Regions from separate parts of the Homo sapiens genome. Here regions 1, 2, 3 and 4 are each linked to region 5. The links come from fine-mapping of genetic effects on gene expression. A gene starts in region 5. Each other region holds a variant in brackets. All regions are shown on one strand. Distances are from middle to middle. Region 1 has its middle 23 kb from the start of TOGARAM2. Region 2 overlaps TOGARAM2 (TOG array regulator of axonemal microtubules 2). Region 3 overlaps TOGARAM2 (TOG array regulator of axonemal microtubules 2). Region 4 overlaps TOGARAM2 (TOG array regulator of axonemal microtubules 2). Region 5 holds the start of TOGARAM2 (TOG array regulator of axonemal microtubules 2).

The links.
Region 1: its variant is fine-mapped to the expression of TOGARAM2 in unexposed skin (GTEx, PIP 0.95). The same link has a PIP of 0.9 or more in sun-exposed skin and whole blood.
Region 2: its variant is fine-mapped to the expression of TOGARAM2 in whole blood (TOPMed, PIP above 0.99).
Region 3: its variant is fine-mapped to the expression of TOGARAM2 in whole blood (TOPMed, PIP above 0.99).
Region 4: its variant is fine-mapped to the expression of TOGARAM2 in blood mononuclear cells (TOPMed, PIP above 0.99). The same link has a PIP of 0.9 or more in memory regulatory T cells and whole blood.

The regions. Positions count from the first base shown.
Region 1 is chr2:28,956,348-28,960,460 of GRCh38, forward strand. It overlaps a transcript of TOGARAM2 not described here. Among named protein-coding and RNA genes, the nearest start is that of TOGARAM2, 23 kb to the right of the region's middle. The variant G/A (reference allele first, on the strand shown) is at 1,894.
Region 2 is chr2:29,020,008-29,024,120 of GRCh38, forward strand. It overlaps TOGARAM2 (TOG array regulator of axonemal microtubules 2), which reads left to right. Exons shown (of 20, transcript NM_199280.4): 11 at 2,151-2,301; 12 at 3,079-3,184. Among named protein-coding and RNA genes, the nearest start is that of TOGARAM2, 41 kb to the left of the region's middle. RefSeq lists an enhancer at 3,720-4,113. The variant G/A (reference allele first, on the strand shown) is at 2,538.
Region 3 is chr2:29,000,604-29,004,716 of GRCh38, forward strand. TOGARAM2 (TOG array regulator of axonemal microtubules 2) reads left to right here. Exons shown (of 20, transcript NM_199280.4): 5 at 1,933-2,144; 6 at 2,889-3,079. Among named protein-coding and RNA genes, the nearest start is that of TOGARAM2, 21 kb to the left of the region's middle. The variant C/G (reference allele first, on the strand shown) is at 1,606.
Region 4 is chr2:29,008,809-29,012,921 of GRCh38, forward strand. It overlaps TOGARAM2 (TOG array regulator of axonemal microtubules 2), which reads left to right. Exons shown (of 20, transcript NM_199280.4): 7 at 2,647-2,693. Among named protein-coding and RNA genes, the nearest start is that of TOGARAM2, 30 kb to the left of the region's middle. RefSeq lists an enhancer at 2,354-2,483. The variant T/C (reference allele first, on the strand shown) is at 2,293.
Region 5 is chr2:28,979,347-28,983,459 of GRCh38, forward strand. TOGARAM2 (TOG array regulator of axonemal microtubules 2) reads left to right here and starts at 1,952. Exons shown (of 20, transcript NM_199280.4): 1 at 1,952-2,192.

The DNA of each region.
Region 1 (4,113 bases), 23 kb before region 5:
TCTGCAACTTGAGCTTGCTTTTTTTTTTAAACCCAATATATTTTGGAGGACTTTCCAAATTAATAACATAGGACTACGTTCATTTTAACTGCAGCAGGATCAGAGGGAGGGCTGGTTAAAACACAGGCTGCTTTGCCCTACCCTGGAGTTTCTCATTCAGCCAGATGGGGGCCAAAGAATGCGTCCCACGTGATGCTGCTGCTGCTGCTGTGTTACGGCTGCGCTTCGGAGAACCACTGCTGCCATTCCCTGATCGATAGATGCTTGGGGTGCTTCCTGTTTCTCAGTAAAGTGAAGTTGCGGCGACCTCGTGCCTGCCTTATGTGCACCTGTGCCAGCATCTTTCTCAGGTGGGTAAGGAGAGGTGGAATTCTGGTCACAGGCTACATGTACCTTAAATTTCAATAGATTCCGTCAAATTGCCTCTCAGTATGGCTGTAACAATTTATAGATGAGCTTCCACACAATATTTTACCCAAGTTAAAAATAAATCCTGGCCGGGTATGGTGGCTCATGCCTGTAATCCCAACACTTTGGGAGGCCGAGGCGGGCGGATCACCTGAGGTCAGGAGTTCGAGACTAGCCTAGCCAACATGGCGAACCCCTGTCTCTACTAAAAGTACAAAAATTGGCCGGGAATGGTGGAGGGCATCTGTAATCCCAGGAGAATTGCTTGAATCCGGGAGGCGGAGGTTGCAGTGAGCCGAGATCGCGCCACTACACTCCAGCCTGGGCCACAAGAGGGAGACTTTGTCTCAAAAAACAAAAAACAAAAAACGAAAAACAAATCCTATGGGAATTTTGATTGGGCTTGTGATAAGCCAATAGGTTAATTTACAATTGATTTCTTTTTGTTTGTTTGTTTGAGATGGAGTTTTGCTCTTGTTGCCCAGTATGGAGTGTAGTGGCGTGATTTCGGCTCACTGCAACTTTCTTCTCCCGGATTCAAGCAATTCTCCTGTAGCCGGGATTACAGGCGCCCGCCACCACGCCTGGCTCATTTTTGTATTTTTAGTAGAGACGGGGTTTCGCCATGTTGGCCAGGCTAGTCTCCAACTCCTGACCTCAGGTGATCCGCCTGCCTCGACCTCCCAAAGTGCTGGAATTACAGGCATAAGCCACTGCGCCTGGCCAAGAATTGATTTCATTACGGAATATTATAACATTAAAATGTACCTTTCTCACATGATAGTAATACAATGATGATGATTTTTTAAAATTGGGAAATTGTGGCTCTTCTCCCTCTGGCTGGAGTCATGACGCTGGAAGAAATGATCTCATTGCTCCTTTAGGAGTGTGTATATCTGAACATTCCAGTTTGGGCAACATTGATAAGGTTTGTTCACATGATACTTACCACACTCTTACCTCATGAATGAATGATTTTGTGTGTTTATTTCGAACTTCAGTTTCATAGGATAGGGAAGGAGTAGGGGGTCTACAAGGGTGGGGAGGGTATCTTCAATAGGAGAGGTGTTTTTTTGTTTTTGTTTTTTTGCCACTCTCTCACAGCTGGGTGTTCAGGGCCCTGCATTTGACACAGTGTTGAATGTCCCTAGGAGGGGGACTATGGCATAGGGATGAGTAGGGAGACACAGTTGAGCAACTAATTAGGATGTGAGGTAGAATGAGTCATTAACTTTCACCAGTGAAGCCATTACAGTCATGACAAAAAAGAAATTGATCTATTAAGAGCCAGGGATTTAAATGATTTTAGGATTTGAGGGAGGGCCTTCTAGGAAGCAAGAGTGATGAAAGTGAAAGACAAATAGGTCCGTTCTAGAAATTTGCAACTTGAGCATTTTAGAACTGAGGTCCTTGATTGGTTGGAAATCAGGTGTAAGAGATTATCTAGTGGTAAGCAACCAAAATGAGTTTGAATGAGTGGAGAGC[G/A]TATGGCAAATTCTTTTCAGGTGTCTCCAAATGATCCTTTCTCCCTCACTAGACCTTGTTTTTTTTTTTTTTCCTTTTCTTTTGGGACAGGGTCTTGCCCTGTTTTTCAGGCTGGAGTGCAGTGGCATGATCATGGCTCACTGCAGCCTCGGACTCCCAGGCTCAAGTGATCCTCCTGCTTCAGCCTCCCGAGTAGCTGGGACTATGGGCATGCACCACCATGCCTGGCTAGTTTTTAAATTTTTTGTAGAGTTGGGGTCTTGCTAAGTTGCCCAGATTTTGAACTCCTGGGCTTAAGCAATCCTCCCTCCTTGGCCTCCCCAAATGCTGGGATTACAGGCGTGAGCCACTACAGCGGGCTGACATTCCATTTTTGGATTTTGGAGTGCACACGTGTGTATTGGCTTTTTGCTGTTCCTTGGATTTGGTGAATTCAGGGGAAGCACGACCAGGTTGCTACAATTGTATTTTTTCTCATCTTCACCAGGCTTGTCGGGATTGTCCAGGTTACTTTCTCTGGTTAGAAGTATAATACAAACGTCAATATAAAAAGCATCCACTAGGTGCCAGTCTTGCTTTGTGCAAATTTCTTTTTATCCCAGCCTTCTGGGAGAGCAGTTGGTTCTGGCCGCCTCCTGTCTAAACTCCCGTGGAGGGTGGGGATGTGAGCTTTCTGCGCGCCAGCCCTCTGGGATTGGCTGAGAGAATCTCCAAAGTGCTTGCAGCTCTTTTCTGGTGTCCAAGTCCTGAAGCGGAACCTGAATGACTGTAGCCCAGCAGCAGGCGTGATGAGAGGGGCCTGGAGGGAATCCTGATGGGAGGAGATCGAGTCTCCAGGTGGTGGCTGCACCTCCAGTTTCCCTGGCCTGGCTGTACCCTCCCTGGACCTGACCAAACTCCCCACCGGGCTACAGATGCTAACCCGAAAAAGTGCCCAGCTGTCAAGAGAAGCTGCAGCAGCTCTTTAGTCTGACACAGTTGCTGAGCATAGGAAGCTTGAATTGATGTTTCCCCCTCATGTCCTTAAATAGTGAAGTAATAGCCAAAATAAGAAAGAAATTAACCACATCATACACCAACTGCATCAATTTCCCCATAGACTTTGTCCATGAAATCCAGGAGTTTACATATGTCAATGATAGTGGGGAAGAGGGAGAAGAATATGGTTTTTCACTTCTTTTCCCAACTTAGGAAAATTTCAAATATACAGAAAAGTTAAAAGAATAGTATAGGCCGGGTGCGGTGGCTCATGCCTGTAATCCCAGCACTTTGGAAGGCCGAGGGGGGCGGATCACAAGGTCAGGAAATCATGACCATCCTGGCTAACATGCTGAAACCCCATCTCTACTAAAAATACAAAAAATTAGCCGGGCGTAGTGGCGGGCGCCTGTAGTCCCAGCTACTCAGGAGGCTGAGGCAGTGAACCTGGGAGGCGGAGCTTGCAGTGAGCTGAGATCGTGCCACTGCACTCCAGCCTGGGCGACAGAGTGAGACTCTGGCTCAAAAAAAAGAAAAAAAAGAATAGTATGATGATCTGTATATACACGCCACTTAAAGTAAAACACTGTTGATATAGTCATATGACCCTTAACAACGGGGATATGTTCTGAAAGATGTTGTTAGGTGAAATTGTGTCATTGTGAGAATCAAAGAGTGCACTGACATAAACCTGGGCGGCACAGCCCGCTACACATGTGGGCTATCTTATGTAGCCTACATTGTTTCTAGGCTACAAACCTGGACAGCATGTTCCTGGACTGAGTACTGTAGGCAGTTGGAACACAGAGAGATGTGTGTATCTAAACATAGAAAAAGCCAAGTAATACGCTATTGTATTATAATCTTATGGGACCACCGTTGTATATGTGGTCCAACATTGACCAAAATGTCATTATGCAGTCCATGACTATATTTGGCTATATTTTTCTTCATCTGTATTTGTGTGCATATATTTATTTTTGCTGATCTACTAGAAAGTAAACTGAAGGCATCATCACACTTTATTCTTAACTACTTCAGGGTGACGTGCCTACAGATTATGACTCCTGCAATAACTACAATACCATTCTTATATCTCTGAAGCTCCAAACCGTAATCCCCTAATACCATCCTCCTGTCTAATTATTTAATATTATTTAATTTTTAATTTTTTTTGAGGCAGAATCTTGCTCACTCTGTCACCCAGGCTGGAGTGTAGCAGCAGCACGTTAATATTCAGTT
Region 2 (4,113 bases), 41 kb after region 5:
TGGTCACTGCGAGAGCACACCCAACAAAGGAGGGAAGGGGTTTTTATCCCTAATGCAGTCAGTCCCTACTACTGTGTCCGGTCCCCATTGGCTGGGGTTGGACAGCACAATCTAAGCTGATCCCGACTGGCTACTTCAAATGGATCAGGGGCTCTAGCGGTGGGAAGAGCAGTTTTGGAACTAAGGGCCTCAAATAAGGAACAGATGTGGGTTGTTACAGATTGGGAACTGATGTGGGTTACAGATTGGGAATGGATGTGGGTTACAGATTGGGAGTGGCTGGAAAGTTGTTTATTGTAACTAGGGGCAAGGAGGCAAGGAAGTTAAGCTTTGAAAATAGAGGACAAGCGGGACCTTTGAAGAGGAACTCACTGTTTCCAACAAGGAGCTGGCCTTTCTTGGGAGACTGGGTTAGTTTAGGTGAGCTCAGCTCAGGATCTGTTCAACTTCTTCTGTTGTGTGTGTGAAAAATAGAAATGACTGAACCAGAAGGCACAAATACGAACATGACTGGAAAGCTGTCAGAGGTAGGGCAAAGGGGGAGGCCACACAAGCCCTCAAGACACTGGAGGCTGGAATCCCCCTGCCAGTGCCTTTTGTGGGTTTGTTTTTAAATCCAGTGGATGCTAAATGCCCCTGTGGGGTGCGGTGAAGGCGAGGAAGGGGGGCAGCAGGGCAGGTGGCTGTATTGCTCGCTCCAGAAGACTGAGCCTCTTTTTGAGAGCGTTGCAGACAGCATGTCATTCACGTCCGTGCTGCCCAGGGAAGGATGGGGAGGTTGGATATTACCTCCTGCCTTTCAGAGAGTGACTGAAATAACTGATTAAGAGACTGTTCCACCTGCCAAGGGCAGTGCTGAAAAAGAGTCCAAGAGTGAGGGCTTTGTGTCTCCGCTTTTTTTGTTTGTTTGTTTTTTTAATCCCTGAGACTGAGTCTCACTCTGTCGCCCAGGCTGGAGTGCAGTGACATGATCTCGGCTCACTGCAACCTACGCTTCCCGAGTTCAAGCGATTCTCCTGCCTCAGCCTCCCGAGTATCTGGGATTACAGGCATGTACCACTATGCCCAGCTAATTTTTGTATTTTTAGTAAAGACAGGGTTTCACCATGTTGGGCAGGCTGGTCTTGAACTCCTGATCTCAGGTGATCTGCCTGCCTTGGCCTCCCAAAGTGCTGGGATTACAGATGTGAGCCACTGTGCCCGGCTGTGCGTCCACTTTCAGTAAAGGGCTTCCTCTCCACTCAGACTTGCCTAGGACCTCCAGATGTACTGTGGTGAAAATCATCCTGGTGGAGGTGAAGCTCGGGAGAAAACTCGCCAGGAAGGAAGATGTGGTAGTGAGAGCTCTGGACTGGGAGGGGGATCTTCTTGTCCTGGCTGTGCTGACAGAGGAGCCGAGGGGCTGTGGAGGGTCCCCCACCCTCTCTGGGCCTCTGGGACCTCAACTGTGTGATCAGGGCATTTGGCTAGACAGAGGCCCTGTAAGACTCCTTCCTGTCCTAGGAGTTTATGATTTCAGCATCTGTCTCCTGGGAAGGAGAGCCTAGAAAACACGACAACCTGTTTGTTGTGGGTCCCTGTGTGTGTGGCTGCATCTGGACTGTGTGGGTGCCAGTTAGCTACATTGTCTTCCTCTAGCCATCTGCTCTTGGACTCTTCCCTGCTTGTGGGCAACCTCACAAAAGGCTGGATAGCAAGAGGGAAGGAAGAGGCGCTGACCATACAGGCCTCTGGTTGGGAATGAGGTTAGACCGCCACCAAAGTGAGTAGGGAGATCATTCATTGATGGCTCAGGGGGCCCCACCCCACCACAGATGGGGCAGGTTTGGAGGTGTCCCCCTGACTGGGGGGTTTAGTCCCATGACATCATGTGGCTTATCACAAATCTGTTTATAAGAATCGCATTGGCAAGGGCAGGAAGGGGAAAAGTCAGCCAAAGGTAGAGTTAGGAGGTCTTCATGGCTCCTGGGGAGGGAGGCCCAGGCGCTGGGTTCTTAGCCTCACCAGGCACTTCCACTTGTACACCCTCCCTGTTAGGTGGGCTCAGGGTGGTGGCACGGCCTCCCATGGTGAGCGGTGGCAGGAGCGGCCACTCGGGCTCTTGCCTGTCCTGCTGCGTGAAGCCTGCTGTTTCTTTCTTGTGAATGCAGCTAACTCATTACCTGCGGTGCTCACGTTGGGGTCTCCTGAATGGGAAGAAGAGGAGGAGATGGATCTTAGAGCCTGTAAGGAGTTGAGGCCTTTCTCGAACCCGGAGCTGGGGCTGAGGGATGCACTCCAGTGCCTCAACAGCAGTGACTGGTGAGGAGATGCTTCCACCACGTGCTGTGTTCTGGCCGGAAGCAGGGGCTGTTGCAGAATAGCTTCTGCCCCTCAACTTCCCTCCTCTCCCACTCTGGGGTTCCAGCACCATGGAGCATAAAAGCCAGTTTGGAGGGAGGACTGTGCATGCATATAGATATGTGTGTTTATGTGCGTGTGTGCATGAGTGTGTGGTGTTCCTGGCTTTATGTGTGTGCCCTGCGACCCTCCAAGCA[G/A]CCTATGCATGGCTCTGTGGTGTACCAAAGCCAGGCATGGCAAGGATGCATTTGATTCCACACCATGGGGCCCAGGAAGGCCGCAGCCCTTTATTTCTCTGAATGAAATTGAATCTGCTCCGAGCGCTCCTCCCACTGTGGGGATGCAGGACCGTAGTCATGAGCAAAGCAATGCCTCGGCCTCCAGAACATTTGTGAGAAGCCCTCCCTGCCTTCAGTCCTCCCTGTTCAAGTGCCTTTTATTGAAGGTGTTGGCTTTGTGTCAAGGACCCAGACAGGTCCTGGAGGGGGGTGGGCTTCCATACAGCACTGTCAGAGCTGAGGGCTGGCCAGAGGCCACATAAAACTGGCTTTTACTGAGTGGTTAGGATTCCAGGCCAGGGTGTTACCCCGGGAAACCCTGCTCTGAGGCCATGGAATGGCACCCTGCTGCGGGTGACGGTGGACCGTGATGGTGTGTGATGTGGGGCCCCTAGTCTGCAGAGGGGTGGGGCTCCTCCCTCTCCACCCTTCTGCAACAGGGCCTGGCCTTGCTTCTCAGGCAGATGAAGGAGAAGGGTCTGGTGAGCATCCAGCGCTTGGCAGCCTGTCACTCAGAGGTCCTCACCGGGAAGCTGCACGACGTGTGCTTGGTGGTGACTGGGGAGGTGAGGCCCCCCAGCCTGTGTGCTGTGCATTTGGCCCCACTGCAGCTGCTGGATGCAGTCCGCTAGCAGCTGTGGAGGGGCTGTGGCTTCAGGGACATGGGGATCCCTGCTTATTTCTCAGCCTTCAGCCACTGAGGTAGGAGGTAGCCACCCATTTCTCAGATTGGAAAACTGAGGCCTAGGGTTTCCTTATTTGTAATCTTTGAGAATGGAAACAATTAGAATCCCACATGCCCATGTGTCGGCCTGCATGGTCCTCTGTACTCAAAATGCCTAAGGAGGGATGGAGCGTCCAGGGCCAGATCCCCAACTCCAGGGCAGTGGTAGTATTTCCCAAAGCGTTTCTTTCATGGCTCTGTGGCTTGGTCTAGCTGGGTCCAGAGAGGCAGGAGGCTACATTTGTTCTCATGTGGAGGCTGTGCCCTGCCCTTGGGAGTGGGCTGCTCCAGTGGGGGTGGGGTGGGGATGAATACGGAGGACGCTGTTTTGTTAACACAGGGGCCTGGGCTGTGTGGGGAGCATCTGCCTTCCTGCATGTGGCCTGGGGTCTCTGTTTCCTCTGCAAAGTGAGGCATCCAGAAAAAATACAGTTACATTCTCCCAGGTTAATTAGAGCCTCAGTCAGCACTACTGTGCTTCTCATGGTACCTATTTCTCACTTGGTAGTTGCAAAGATCAAATCAGACATTCTTTGTAAAAGTGCTTTGAAGACAGAGTGTACACATTTCCTATGGTCATGATAATGATGGGATTAATAATTGAGATGATAACAAAATGGGACAGTTTTGCTCAGAGTGGCTGCAGGGTTTTTGTTTCCAGCGTGGCAAGGCCTAGGTCAGGGGAAGGGTGGGGGTGGAGGAAGAGGGTGGTGCAGGGCCCATTTTCCATGCGTCCCAGAGCCCTTGGCAGGGTCCAGCACCCTGGAGGGC
Region 3 (4,113 bases), 21 kb after region 5:
AAGTCTTGAGGTCTTAGGAAGAAAGGGGAAGTGCTCTCAAGAGGCACGTGGTTGCTGCCGTCAAGCCTGGGGTTGTGGTTGGCTGTTCTTCCCCTCCCCTGTGCAGACTGCTCCACCTGCTGAGCCTCTCCCTGGAGCCGTGGGGTGTCTCCAGCTCCCGGGGAGCCCAGGACAATGCCAGGGAGCCTCTGGGAGGAATTGTCCTGGCTGCACATTATGGAGGCAGAAGGTGGGGTTGGAATGCCCGAGAAGCTTCCTTAGAACTTCCAGTAGGTACAACTCCTAGAGCTGCCAGACCAACAACTCTCTCCCTTAGGGGCTTGAAGCCCTTTTCTAGATATTTCATTTCTTTTTTACAAAGTTCCAGCATAGGGAAAAAAAGAATGGAGTTGTTCTACCTAATGTTCTGATGGGCAGTGACCTATAGACTTATCAGGCCCCTCAGCAAGCATGGAGGGCCGGGGATCTCTGGCCCCCGGGCAGTGCTGGGGCTGCTCTGGCCCCTGCATTGAGGCTGAGTTGACTCCTCTGTGCCCTGACCCAGCTGGGGCTCAAGGTGGCCCGGCAAGTGGCACAGTCTCCACTTGACCACACCCCTTCTTTTCCATCCTTTCAGCTCCCCACAGGCTAACCACAACACAACAGTGCTCCAAGACAGAACAGAACCAGCACCGGAAGCCAGGAGGGGAGCGAGTGTGCAGGAACAGAGATGATATTTTGACTTGGCTGGTTTATTTTTTTTTAATTTTTTTTTTCTGGAACAGAGTCTCGCTCTGTCACCCAGGCTGGAGTGCAGTGGTGCGATTTTGGCTCACTGCAACCTCTGGGTTCAAGTGATTCTCCTGCCTCAGTCTCCTGAGTTGCTGGGATTACAGACAACCACCACTAGGCCCAGCTAATCTTTTTTTTTTTTTTGAGACCGAGTCTTGCTCTGTTGCCCAGTCTAGAGTGCAGTGGTGCGATCTCGGCTCACCGCAACCTCCACCTCCCAGGTTCAAGCGATTCTCCTGCCTCAGCCTCCCCGGTAGCTGGGACTACAGGCATGTGCCACCACGCCCGGCTAATTTTTAGTAGAGATGGGGTTTCACCATGTTGGCCAGGCTGGTCTTGAACTTCTGACCTCCAGTGATCCTCCCGTTCTCGGCCTCCCAAAGTGTGTGGGATTACAGGCGTGAGCCACTGCGCCTGGCCTGACTTGGCTGTTTTGATGCAGTGGTTTTGTTGAGGCCAGAATGAAAGTTAAAATGCTAGTCTTTTTTTTTTTTTTATTCCTCATCACTGATATTTACAAAGATAACCCTGAGCTCTTGGCCCAACCCAGTGCTTCTTGCCCTGTGCCTTTGCCTGAGGCATGGCTGTGGGGTGAGATGGGGTGGGGCACAGGGCGCTGAAGATGTCTGTTGGGCACCTAAAGCATTCAGAGGGGAGCTGGAAGTGTGGCGGTCTGTCTTAGACTATGTTAGCTGTGTCAAAACAGCTACGCCCCACATCACCAGCCGAAAAGGAAGGGGAAACAGTGGCAGGTACTTGCCTGGCATCTTATATAAGTGATGTTATTGAATCACCCCATTTCACAGAAGTGTAATGGGGTTCAGAGAGACAGTG[C/G]CTTGCTCGAGGTCACATAGCTTCTACCCACGGCCAGGACCTGCCATGCTTCCTCCTGATCTGGCACTGCTTTTATTTCCCTTCCTTCCCACGCTGCCTCTGAATTCTAAACAGGTAACTTGGATTGGCCCTTTCTGGAATGGCACAGACACTCAGAAGTGGCTGCTTGCTCAGTCTACCAGTGGTGGGGTTGGGGACAGATCTGATCTCTCTCCTCGCCATCCCAGTCCTTCCCAGGGCAGAAGGCCCCGTTGCTGGGGTCTGAATCCACCTTCCACTCCCTGTTCTTCTGGGACTAACTGATTTCCCATCCCCATCCCTGTACAGCCTCTCTGGATCCAGGGGGAGGCCCCCAAGGAGTTCCCCTGCACAGCACCATCCCCCGAGCCACCTCTCAGAGGCTGCTGAGGGTGCCCAGGCCGATGCCTCTCATCCAGAGCATCCCTACCACCCCTGAGGCCAGCGGAGTCAAAGAGAAGGGCCTGGACCTACCGGGGAGCATTCCGGGTCCTCACGAGTTGAGACCCGGTGCTCAGGAGGTAAGGTGGTTCGACTGCTGTGAGTCTGGTCCTCAGCTTCTTGCCCTCCCTTCCTCCTGCCTTTCTTTCTAGCCTCCACCAACCCCTGACTCCATGCCCTGAGCATCCCTGGAGGTGTCTTGAGGTCTGCAGTGAGGATAGGGACAGCACTGGGAGAGGCTCAAGGTGCTCATTTCACCACCTCCCCCAGCATCTCAAACCTCCATAGCTGGCCTGGGGGCTCTGGGTGGCTGTGCCAGAGGCTGCATGACCTTTGTCCTAGAACTGGTGGTCCCCTAGGCCTTCTCTGGTCTAAATGTTCCAGAATTCCTCCTGCTTTCTGGCCCTCTCCATTTTAAGCAAGAGTGTGGCAAAGAATGCTGGGCTAGGACTCAGATTTGGGCCTTGGTTTCTGTTTGCCCCTCACTGGCTGTGTGACCTTGTGCAAGTCACACCCCTCTTTGGGCCCCAGTTTGCACATCTATGAAAATAGAGGTTTGGCCCAGATGTGTTTGAAGGTCCTTCCAGCTCTGATGTTCTAGGATTTTTCTGAAATGAGAACAGAAAAACGAATAATAATAGTCACAAAAGGGCTTGCCAGTCTCCTCACCAGGAGTGGTAAGGAAGCAGTCAGGCTTCTGGGGGTCCCAGGGTGGTGTGGCTGAAAAGAGACAGCAGGTCCCACACTGTGTGAGGTGCCTGGAGGTGAGCATTCACCATGGGATGTTGCCATAGGCCAGACCCCTGTCCCGCCTCTGCTCCCAGGCGCAGATCTCCTGGCAATACCTGCACTGCAATGATGAGAAGATGCAGAAGTCCCTGGGCGCCATCGTGATCCCACCCATCCCAAAGGCCAGGACGGTTGCAGCGACCCCCTCCCGTGTGCCTGGCTCCCTTCCCAGCCCGTTACCTCCAGGCCAGGGAGTCCTCACAGGCCTGAGGGCCCCACGCACGCGGTAAGAGCTCCAAGTCAAACCTTCCTTGCTGACTTCTCTCCCTCTGTCCCCCTGAGATCCACTGGGGCTCCTTGTGGCTGACCCTCCATGCTGTGGCAGAGTTCTTGGGACACCAGGCAGGGAAAGGGCTGGGGGCTCCACCCATGAGCCACAGACCTAGGGAGGTCCCAGCATGGTTGCCGGGGCTTCTCTGCCTCTTGGCTCCGGCAGGCTGGGTCAATGGCATCACGAACAATGTCTCCAGCCTCTGTCTTCTCCCAGTGCCTTAGTGGATGAGGTTGCCGGAGTAATGAATAAAACACTAATTATTTTATCTCATATATATAATTTTGAGATGGAGTCTCACTCTGTCGCCCAGGCTGGAGTGCAGTGGTGTGATCTCAACTCACTGCAACCTCCGCCTCCCGGGTTCAAGCGATTCTCCTGAGTAGCTGGGATTACAGGCACCCACCACCATGCCCTGCTAATTTTTGTATTTTTAGTAGAGACGGGTTTCAGCATGTTGGCCAGGCTGGTCTTGAAACTCCTGACCTCAGGTGATCTGCCCTCCTTGGCCTCCCAAAGTGCTGGGATTATAGGTGTGAGACACCGTGCCCGGCTATGAATAAAACACTATTTTAAAGCATGATTGAGTTCATGGCAGCTCTTTGTAATTAAATATTTTCTTAATTGATGGATACTAAAAATACAACCAGTATCATGTGTATGGGGGACAGTCCACAAACTTTTGGACTTGAAAAGGGGTCTTCATATCCCACAAACAAGTGGGGAAGAGGATCTTTGTGTTGGCATAAATCGGGTTATGGCTTGTAAGTAAGACAGTGCTCTAGATGGCCAGCAACATCCCCGTGGTCAGTCCAGAGTGATGTCAGAGCACGTGTGTGTGAGAGTGAGTGTGTCTGAGTGTCTTTGTGTGTGCACACATGTATGAGTGCCTGCAGGTATGTGTGAGTGTATGTGTATGAGTGTGTATGTGTGCATGTATATGTGAGTATATGCATGTATGTGAGTACAAGAGTGTGTGTGTCTGAGTA
Region 4 (4,113 bases), 29 kb after region 5:
CAGGGGCCATATGTCAAAAACCTCTGTGGCTTCTGTGGGGCCAGGATTGGTACCTGGCATGGATTAGTTCCGTAATAAATATCTGTCCTTTCCTGTTTGGTTTGTGACATGGATTTCCCTTTGTTGACAATGTGGGGCTCTCTAGCCAATGGAGGGGATGGAGGCTCTATTACCATTTCAGTCATCCATCTGTCCGTTTACTCACCTAAAAGCTGTTAAGCACCTACTATGTGCCAGGTGCATAGGTCACAATCTGTGTGCTCCAGCCAGGAAGTCATCAAGGTGAAGTTCAGAGAGGTGGGTGCGTAGGCGAAGGCTGCCTGTCATGTTGGTGACCCAGGAGAAAGAGATCTGAATCATGCCAGGCAGACTTCTCAGGGCAGGATGAGGGCACACTTGCGAGATGGAGATGGAGGTGGAAGAGGGAGAGACGGAAGGAGGAGTGAGCCCCTGCATCCTTGCGTGACAGCCTGCGGGGTGGGGGTGAAGGGCCTGTGTGCCAACTGAGAAGTGGGAGCTTCATCCTCCTGTAAGGAGGTGCCACCAAAGGCTTTCGGGTGTGAAAGTGGCATCTGCTGTGACTTAGAAAGGCCATGTTGGCAACCTCAGAGTGGCATGGACCGTGTAGATGGAGGTGGGGCTGCTGCAGGAATCCGGGGAGAAGGCAAAGGGTGGCTGAGCAGGGCAGAGGCAGGGAGTCTGTGGGCTGAGGATGCAGAGGTGGGGGCGGGGCGGGATGAATGGCAGGGCTAAGCCACGGGGTAGATGTGGGCTGAAGATGGGGGAGCTGAGACCATGCCGGGGTTCCTGGCTTCAGCCACTGGACAGATACTGGCACCCTTCTTGGAGACAGGGCATAGGAGAAGAGGCAGGTGCTGGGGACAGTGCTGAGGCCACTCTTGGACATGCTTAGACGTTTGGGTTGGAGCCGGGAGGGGCTCTTGCTGGAAACAGGGCTTTGCTGCTCCTGCTCCACCCACCTCCTTGGGGCCTGCGGAGGAGCCTGAGCGGTGGTGGGTTTTCTGTGAGGTTCGCACAGGGTGGGGCGGGGCTGCCACGTGCAGGAAGGCAGGGGCCCTGATCGGCATGGCCTGTCTTGGCCTCAGTCCTTTCTGCTGTGGGGTCGCTAGAGAAGGGGAGGGCAAGAGGCTTCCCCAGGGTCCACAGCTTAAGAGAAGCTGCGCCAAGTCCTCTGAGGCCAAATCCCTTGCTCAGAGCAGGTGTGTGTGTGTGTGTGTGTGTGTGTGTTGGGGGGGCGCAGAGCGGGGGAGGCTGCAGCTCAGGGCCCCAGGGGCAAAGCCGAGGCATAAGCATTGGGGTTTTTGGCATCCTGTGCTCACCTCAGGCAGCCTGGGACCTCCATGAGCTCATAGAAGCCAAGGGCAACTGTGTGGACTTTGATGCTCCACTTCCCCTCCCCGCCCGCCTCCAATCCTCTTAGTGCCGTTGGGCAGTGGTTAAGCAGTGGTGGGTTACAATGGCAAAGGCCTAGTGGGCGAGCTCCCCAGGTCAGGGGTGCCCTGGAGCATTCGCTTACTATCTCCAGCCCACACGATCCCTCCCTGTGGGTCCAGACCCAAGAGGCTGGGCCTGGCCCTGGGAGCAATGGCGAATCCCGGCTGATCTACGCCCAGGTTGAAGCTCCGCTCCTCCTGTGGACTCCCCTGACCTCCACAGTCCCCAAGGATCAGGGTTCCCCTGCATCCAGGCAGGCACTGAGGGGGGCTGTCCTACCGCCCCTCCTGCAGCCCGGCCTGGACTGTGATCCTCTGAGGCCAGTGTGTGGGATATTGTGTTCCTGACCTGTTGCTGTGGCTTGTTACTCTGTCAGCCCCCCAGTGGGTCCTGATGTCCACCGAGAAGGGAAAGCCATGTAGGACGCTGCAGGGCTGGTCTCCATGGGAACCTGAGCTCCCGGAGGGCGGGGAGTGTCATGTCTTATTGATGCTCCATTCCCAGTGTCTAGAATAGTGCTTGACACATAGTAGGTCTTCAGTAAATATCTGTTGAATAAGTAAATGGTGCTTCCAACTTAAGAAATTACAATTAAAACCAGTGCCAGGGATGCCACTGTCTTCCCCCTCCTGTGGGTAATTGGGATTGAGCTTCTGGTACAAAACAGTGGTGACTTCCTGCCACAGCAAAGGGGATCAGCTCCGCCCCCCAGGCCCTGGGATGGGGATTACAATCACGAGTGGGACTATTTAGGGGTCACTGAGCTCTCACGGGGTTGGGGCAGCTTGGAGAACTTGAGCTCAGTGCTGTCTAAGCTGGGAGGCAGTTTACCCTTGT[T/C]TACTGCAGCTGCTGTCAACTCCACAGGCCCAAGCAGCACAGCGGGAGGGTGGGGGCTTCCTTTAAGTCAGCAGTTTCTGTGTGGGTGTCAGCCTCCTGGGGAATGCGCGAGCTGCACTGCCAGGAAATGGGGCTGAACCTGGCCTGGTGGTCAGCCTGCCCTTGTGTTTGCAGAGGGAGCTGTATCTCCTGCAGCTTGAATCCTGGGCCAAGAGCCTCTGCAGGGATAACAGTGCCGTCCCCTCTGTCCCCCATCTCGGCCATTGCCCCATCCTGGAGCCACCCTGGGCTCCCCCAGCAGTGTCTCTGGCTGGCCATCCCTCATGATGCTTTTCTCTCCCCCGTTCTTTTAAGATTGGCTCGGGGGAGTGGGCCTCGGGAGAAGACCCCTGCATCTCTGGGTACGTATCTTCCATGCACACCTCCCTTTGTTATTTGACTCTCTACATTCCTGGGCTGGGTCAGGGAAACAGAATTAGGGCCAGAGGAGATCTGAGAGCTCTTGTGTCTGGGCCCTTCATTTCACAGCAGGAAGCTGAAGTCACCGGAGGTCTAACCGGAGGGTGGCAGCGGGCCCGGGCGAGGTGTGGAAGAGAAGTGACATTTATTGACACCTGCTCTGGTACGTCAGGTGTGATGACGTACACCAGCTTGTGCAGCTTGCCACGGCCTCGATAAGAGAGACAATTCTGGCCGTGTGTGACAGACGAGCTGGCACACGAAGGCTCTGTGAGCAGGATGTCCTCCCTGGTCGCTGAGCCCCATCAGGCTTGCAGCCAAGTTTCCACGGCTCCAAAGCTGGGGTCTTGACACATCAAGCAGCTGCCCCTTGCGGTGTGTTAAGCAAGTAGAGAGAGTATTCCTCACCTAGAGAATGAGAGGGTAAACCAGAGCCCACAAACCTCAGCCAGCTGGCCCCAGGAGCTTTAGCTGTCAGGATATAGGGCCAGCACAGGATTGAGGCGAGGAGAGGGGACAGGGCAGGGTAGGAGGCCTTTAAAGAGGGAGGAGGGATCCTTCCTGGATTGAACTCTATGGGGAGGTGGGACGGGTGGATGGAAGCTGAGCCTCTGCTGCAGGGTTGGGGAGCAGAACACCCCGAACCCAGGCCAGGGTGGGGAGGAGTTGGAGGCAGCCGCTCTACTGCCCGGCAGGAGGGGTGGCCTCCCCAGGACCAGCTTCCTGGCAGGTCACTCTGCTAATCAGCTCAGCTGGTGGGGCAGTTGGCGAAGGGGGGTGGCTGTTGCCCAAGAGGCCCTGGGATCAAGACACAAAGCTGGACCTGGCACAAGAAACCTCTGCGGCAGCTGCTTCTCCCCTGCTCCCGGGCCAGGCTGCAGCAGGGTGAGCTCAGGCAGTCTGTGGCGAAATGCACCGGCACCCTGAGTGACCTTAAGAGCTAACCCGGAGGACGCTGGTGTGGGGGTTGGGCCAGGAGACCCCAGTCAGTAACCACTTCCTCCCCTGGCTCTCCAGCTTGCTGCTTGAGAACCAGGTCACCAGGGACCTGTGGCAGGGGCAGGCTGCTCAGACAGGGCTTTCCAGGGCATCCCTTTGGGGTGGAGGTGAAGAAGTGACATAAAAAATAGTTAAGTCCTTAAAGGGCTCTCTGCCCTCCAGCTGGCAACTGGGCTGACACTGCCCTCTGTGTGCAACATGCCTAGCACATGGTAGGGGCTCACAGGGTCTTGTCTGAAGCTGGGGGCTTCCTCACATCTGTGGCATTCCTGCAGTCCTTGCCCTGGCCAGGTGGTGCCTACCACATGTGCCCTCTGCTCTGCCTCTTACCTCTGGGCAGATGAGGCTTCAAAGCCCCTCTTC
Region 5 (4,113 bases):
AGCCACCCCAGGGAGGGAGGATCTGCAGTCTTCCTGCTAGGCATATGAAAGAACCAAGACTCAGAGAGTTTGTTTCTTGCCTAAGATGTCATTGCTGGGATCAGAATCCAGTCTGGAATCCAGGGGCTTCAGAGCCCTGGTTCTTAAGGGCTGTGCTGTGTTATCCATCCTCCCTTATTGCAGGTAACACAGGAACAAGCAGGGGGTTACCTGCTGGGGCCTCTCTCCATCACTCAGCTCCTGAGGGCAGGCTGTGCTGCCTCCTGTGTCTCTAGCATTTGGCACAGAGCATGGCCAGCCCACCTTGGGAACACATAATGCTCGGCCATCCAGTGGAGGCAGAGTGTGGAGAGCCCAGGAGCTGAAGGAGGATGCAGTGGGGCCTGATTAGAGGGGCTTGGCAGCCATGGTGCTAAGTCTGGCCCTTACACCAAGGACAGCAGGGGCCATGAGGGGTGTCCAGCAGGGCACGGCCATCGGATCTGTGTTCTAGAAGCTCCGACTCAAGCAGCGACATGCAGATGGGCTTTGGGGGAGCTGCACACACACCATCTCCCTGCCAGAGCTGAGGGACACCAAAACCTGCCTTGTCACGTCCCCGCCCTGGGTTCCCATGGTTGAGTCGCTCTCACTCACAAGCTGTGTGGCTTGGGGCAAGGGCTTAACTTGCCAGGCCTCTCTTTCCCCACCTGGGCATCTTCATACCTGTCTCCCAAGGGGAATCCGCACAGCCACTGTTCCTGGTTTGGAGGAAGAGTCTCCTTTCTGGGCCTCTGCTACAGGGAGTTCAGGAGTTCCGTTCGCCTTGTCAGCTGTGACCTCTGGCTTGGGGCCAGCACCTGCCCCAGAGGGACCTTGTTCTCAGTCATAATTGGCTGGCCCTCCTTGCTCCCTCCTGGATCTTGGTAAATGACAGCAGCTACTCCCAAGGCCTGCCCTCCCTGGCCATCTCAGGGAAGAGGAGAGAGTCCCAGGAAGGAGCTACCCCGTGTGCAAGCATTTCAGCAGCCCAGGCCTCGTGGGGTGTAGTTGGCCTCCCACCAGCCATCCCTGTGTGTTCCACACACCTGCTGATTCCTTTGTACAGAATATGGGGAGGAGCTGCCTGGGAAAATTCATAGTATCTTTGGGCGAGTGGCTGTTTGCAAGCCTGCATACAAATTGAGTCCTTGGCTTCCACTGTGTGCCCCCTGGATGGTGAGGGCTAGAAGGGGGTAGCATGAGGAGTGGGACTGGCTGTCATTCCAGAGAGAGGATGCCAGCCTGGGATTTCCGCCCAAGAGCCTGGGTTCAGTGAGAAAGTACACATGGGCTGCTAGGATTCACATTTTCCAAAAGTTAAGGTGGAGAAATCTGGTTGGGACGAAGGCCACAGGCTTTCTGCTCTGCAAGGATTTCTGGGGAAGTGATGGAGAGCCTACCAAGTGCTAGACAAAATTACAAGCTGTTACATGCACCTTTGAAATCCTTACAGCAACCCTATCAAGTCAGTACTATTGGTGTACCCATTTTATAGATGAGGAAACTGAGGTCAAGAAAGGTAAAGTTCTGACCAGAGGGCACACAGCTGGAAGTAGCAGGATCAGGATTCAAACCCAGCTGCCTGCTGCCAAGGCCTGGATGCTCACTCTGTCTTTCTGCCTCTAGGAGAGTTAGTAAACAGAAGCAGATTGAGCCCAGAGGCCATGTGAGCAAAACCAGGAGTTCTACCAACAACATCCCTGCACCAAGCCAGCTATGCACTTCCTGGCTGCAGTCACCAGGCAGGGGGGCCCAGTGCTCTCTCTTTCTGTGGTGTCCATGACCCTAGAGGACAGGTCGGCCACTTGGTAGTGCCTGTGCTCCGGTGAGCCACAGAGGCAATGAGACCAAGGGGAAAATCTCTCGGCTCGGTCTCTCCCCCGCGCAGGGAGCTATGGGCTCCTTCAGCGAGTGGTTGCTATGCAGCCTTGTTTATTCAAGGAGAGCTTTGCTGAGAGCTGGAGCACGCCAGCAGTGGAGCTCGTGGCCACCCAGCCCCTGCTCAGACAGGAGGCTGCGGCCCAGGACTGTGTGGCTGGTGGGGGCCAGGGTGGGCCAGGCCTGGGGCTGCCCCGTCCTTGCCTCCCTGGGCCCATGAGCATCAACGTCTCTATAGAGACCAAGGACCCTGGATTCCTCCAGTGACAGGGGTTTGGCCTCTGGACAGAGAGGTGAGAGACGATAGGTCCACCAAGCCATCTATTGTAGGTGGTGAATGGGAGGCTGGGTCAGGACCCCTGAAGTCCCTGGAGGGAGGGATAAAGACCTGAACTGGAGCAAGCACAAACACACAGAGAAAGAAAAAGCATCCTGCTGTGACTTGGAGGCTGTGTGACCGTGGGGATGTCTCTGACCCTTTCTGGGCCTTCATGTGGCAGCTCTAGGGGAGGAGGTTGGACTCACTGTTCTCTGAGCACTGGGAGCCAAGGAAGGAGGGGCTGGCCTGGGCTGACCCCTTCCCCGAGTCATGGCCTCTGTGGGCAGTGCTCTCTACCTCAGGGTGAACCCTTCACAGGGCAACAGCTCCCTGGGGTGCTGTGGGCGATGGTGCCGGGAAGGGTGGGGGCATGCTGTGGGGATGGCACCCGTGCTTAGGGGTGCTGGGGCACCCCGTGAGAGCATAGGCCTTGGAGGGGCTCTGCTCTGGGTTTGAATTCTAACCCCCCCTCTTTCTGGCTGTGTGGACTTGAGCTCTTTGCCTCTCTGAGCCTCAGGTTTCTCATCTGTGAAGAAGGGTTTAAAAAAAGCCCCCTTGGTGCTGTCTGTGAGCATGGAGACAGTCAGGAGGGCAGCTGGCACGTTAGCCCATGCGCAGAATGGAAGTTACTGTTTGTTGTTGATGCTGTTGTTAGGTGGAGATTGGCATGTTCCTTTCTGGAGCACATTTCAGTCTCCTGAAACTAAGGTTTTGCCAGTCACTTCTCCAGGACAAGGGCTGGTGCTGGCGGGGGACCTCAGAGGGCTGCCATTTCCTCAGGAGCGCTGGGAGGGGAGGGACTGGGGCCCGTACTCTGTCGGAGCATCACTGAGGCAGGCCACAGGGCATTGGTGCCTGGCCCCAGGAAGTGGTGTGAGGGGCCCATAATCGCTTCTATCCTGAACTGGGCAGTCCCTCGCTCTTCTCACCAATGCCCTGCAGGAGACGGCCCTGCAGCCTTCTAGCCACAGGCTGGCTCCCAGGACTGGCTCAGTTTCAGCCCATGGAGCCTGAGACTAACAGATTTGAAGAAAGGGGGAGGTAGTTGGGGGCAAGGGATGGGGAGATGTCAACCTGAGCTCTGGAGAGACCTGCCTCTGAGGGCAGCGCATCCTCCCATTGACCCCACGGCTACCTCAGAGGCACCAGACTCTGCTCACTAGCACAGAGGCTGGAAGTTTATTATTGCAGACAGAAGAATGCATAAAATGCATGCAGTGTGAGGAATAATTATAAAGTGAATGTCCATGTAGCCACCTCCCAGGCCAAGAAACAGAAAAACTGGCCGCCTCCCAGAACCCACCCCCGTGGGCCCTGTCCTTATCACAGCTGCCTCCCTTCCCCTTAGGGTTAATCATGCTACTAATTTTTCCTTGATTTTCTATCAAGTTTTCCATCTATGTCTGCATTTTTATTTTAATTTAATTTCGCTTCATTTTTTGAGACAAGGTTTCACTCTGTCCCCCAGGTGGGAGTACAGTGGCATGATCTCAGCTCACTGCAACCTCTGCCTCCTAGGCTCAAGTGTTCCTCCCACCTCAGCTTCCCAAGTAGCTGGGTGTACAGGTGCACACCACCATGCCCGGCTAATCTTTGTGTGTGTGTATATATAAATATATATATATATATATATATTTTTTTTTTTTTTTTTTTTTTTTTTTTGTAGAGATGGGTTTTTTCCATGTTGCTCAGCCTGGTCTCGAATTCCTGGCTCAGGTGATATGCCTGCCTTGGCCTCCCAAAGTGCTGGGATCACAGGTGTGAGCCACCACGCTGGGCCTATGTATGCATTTCTAAACACTCGATGTAATTTTGTCTTTCTTTGAACTTTATAGAAGTAGGGGCATACCCTGTGTGGTCTCTTGGGTCTGTCTTCTTTCACTAAACATTACGCT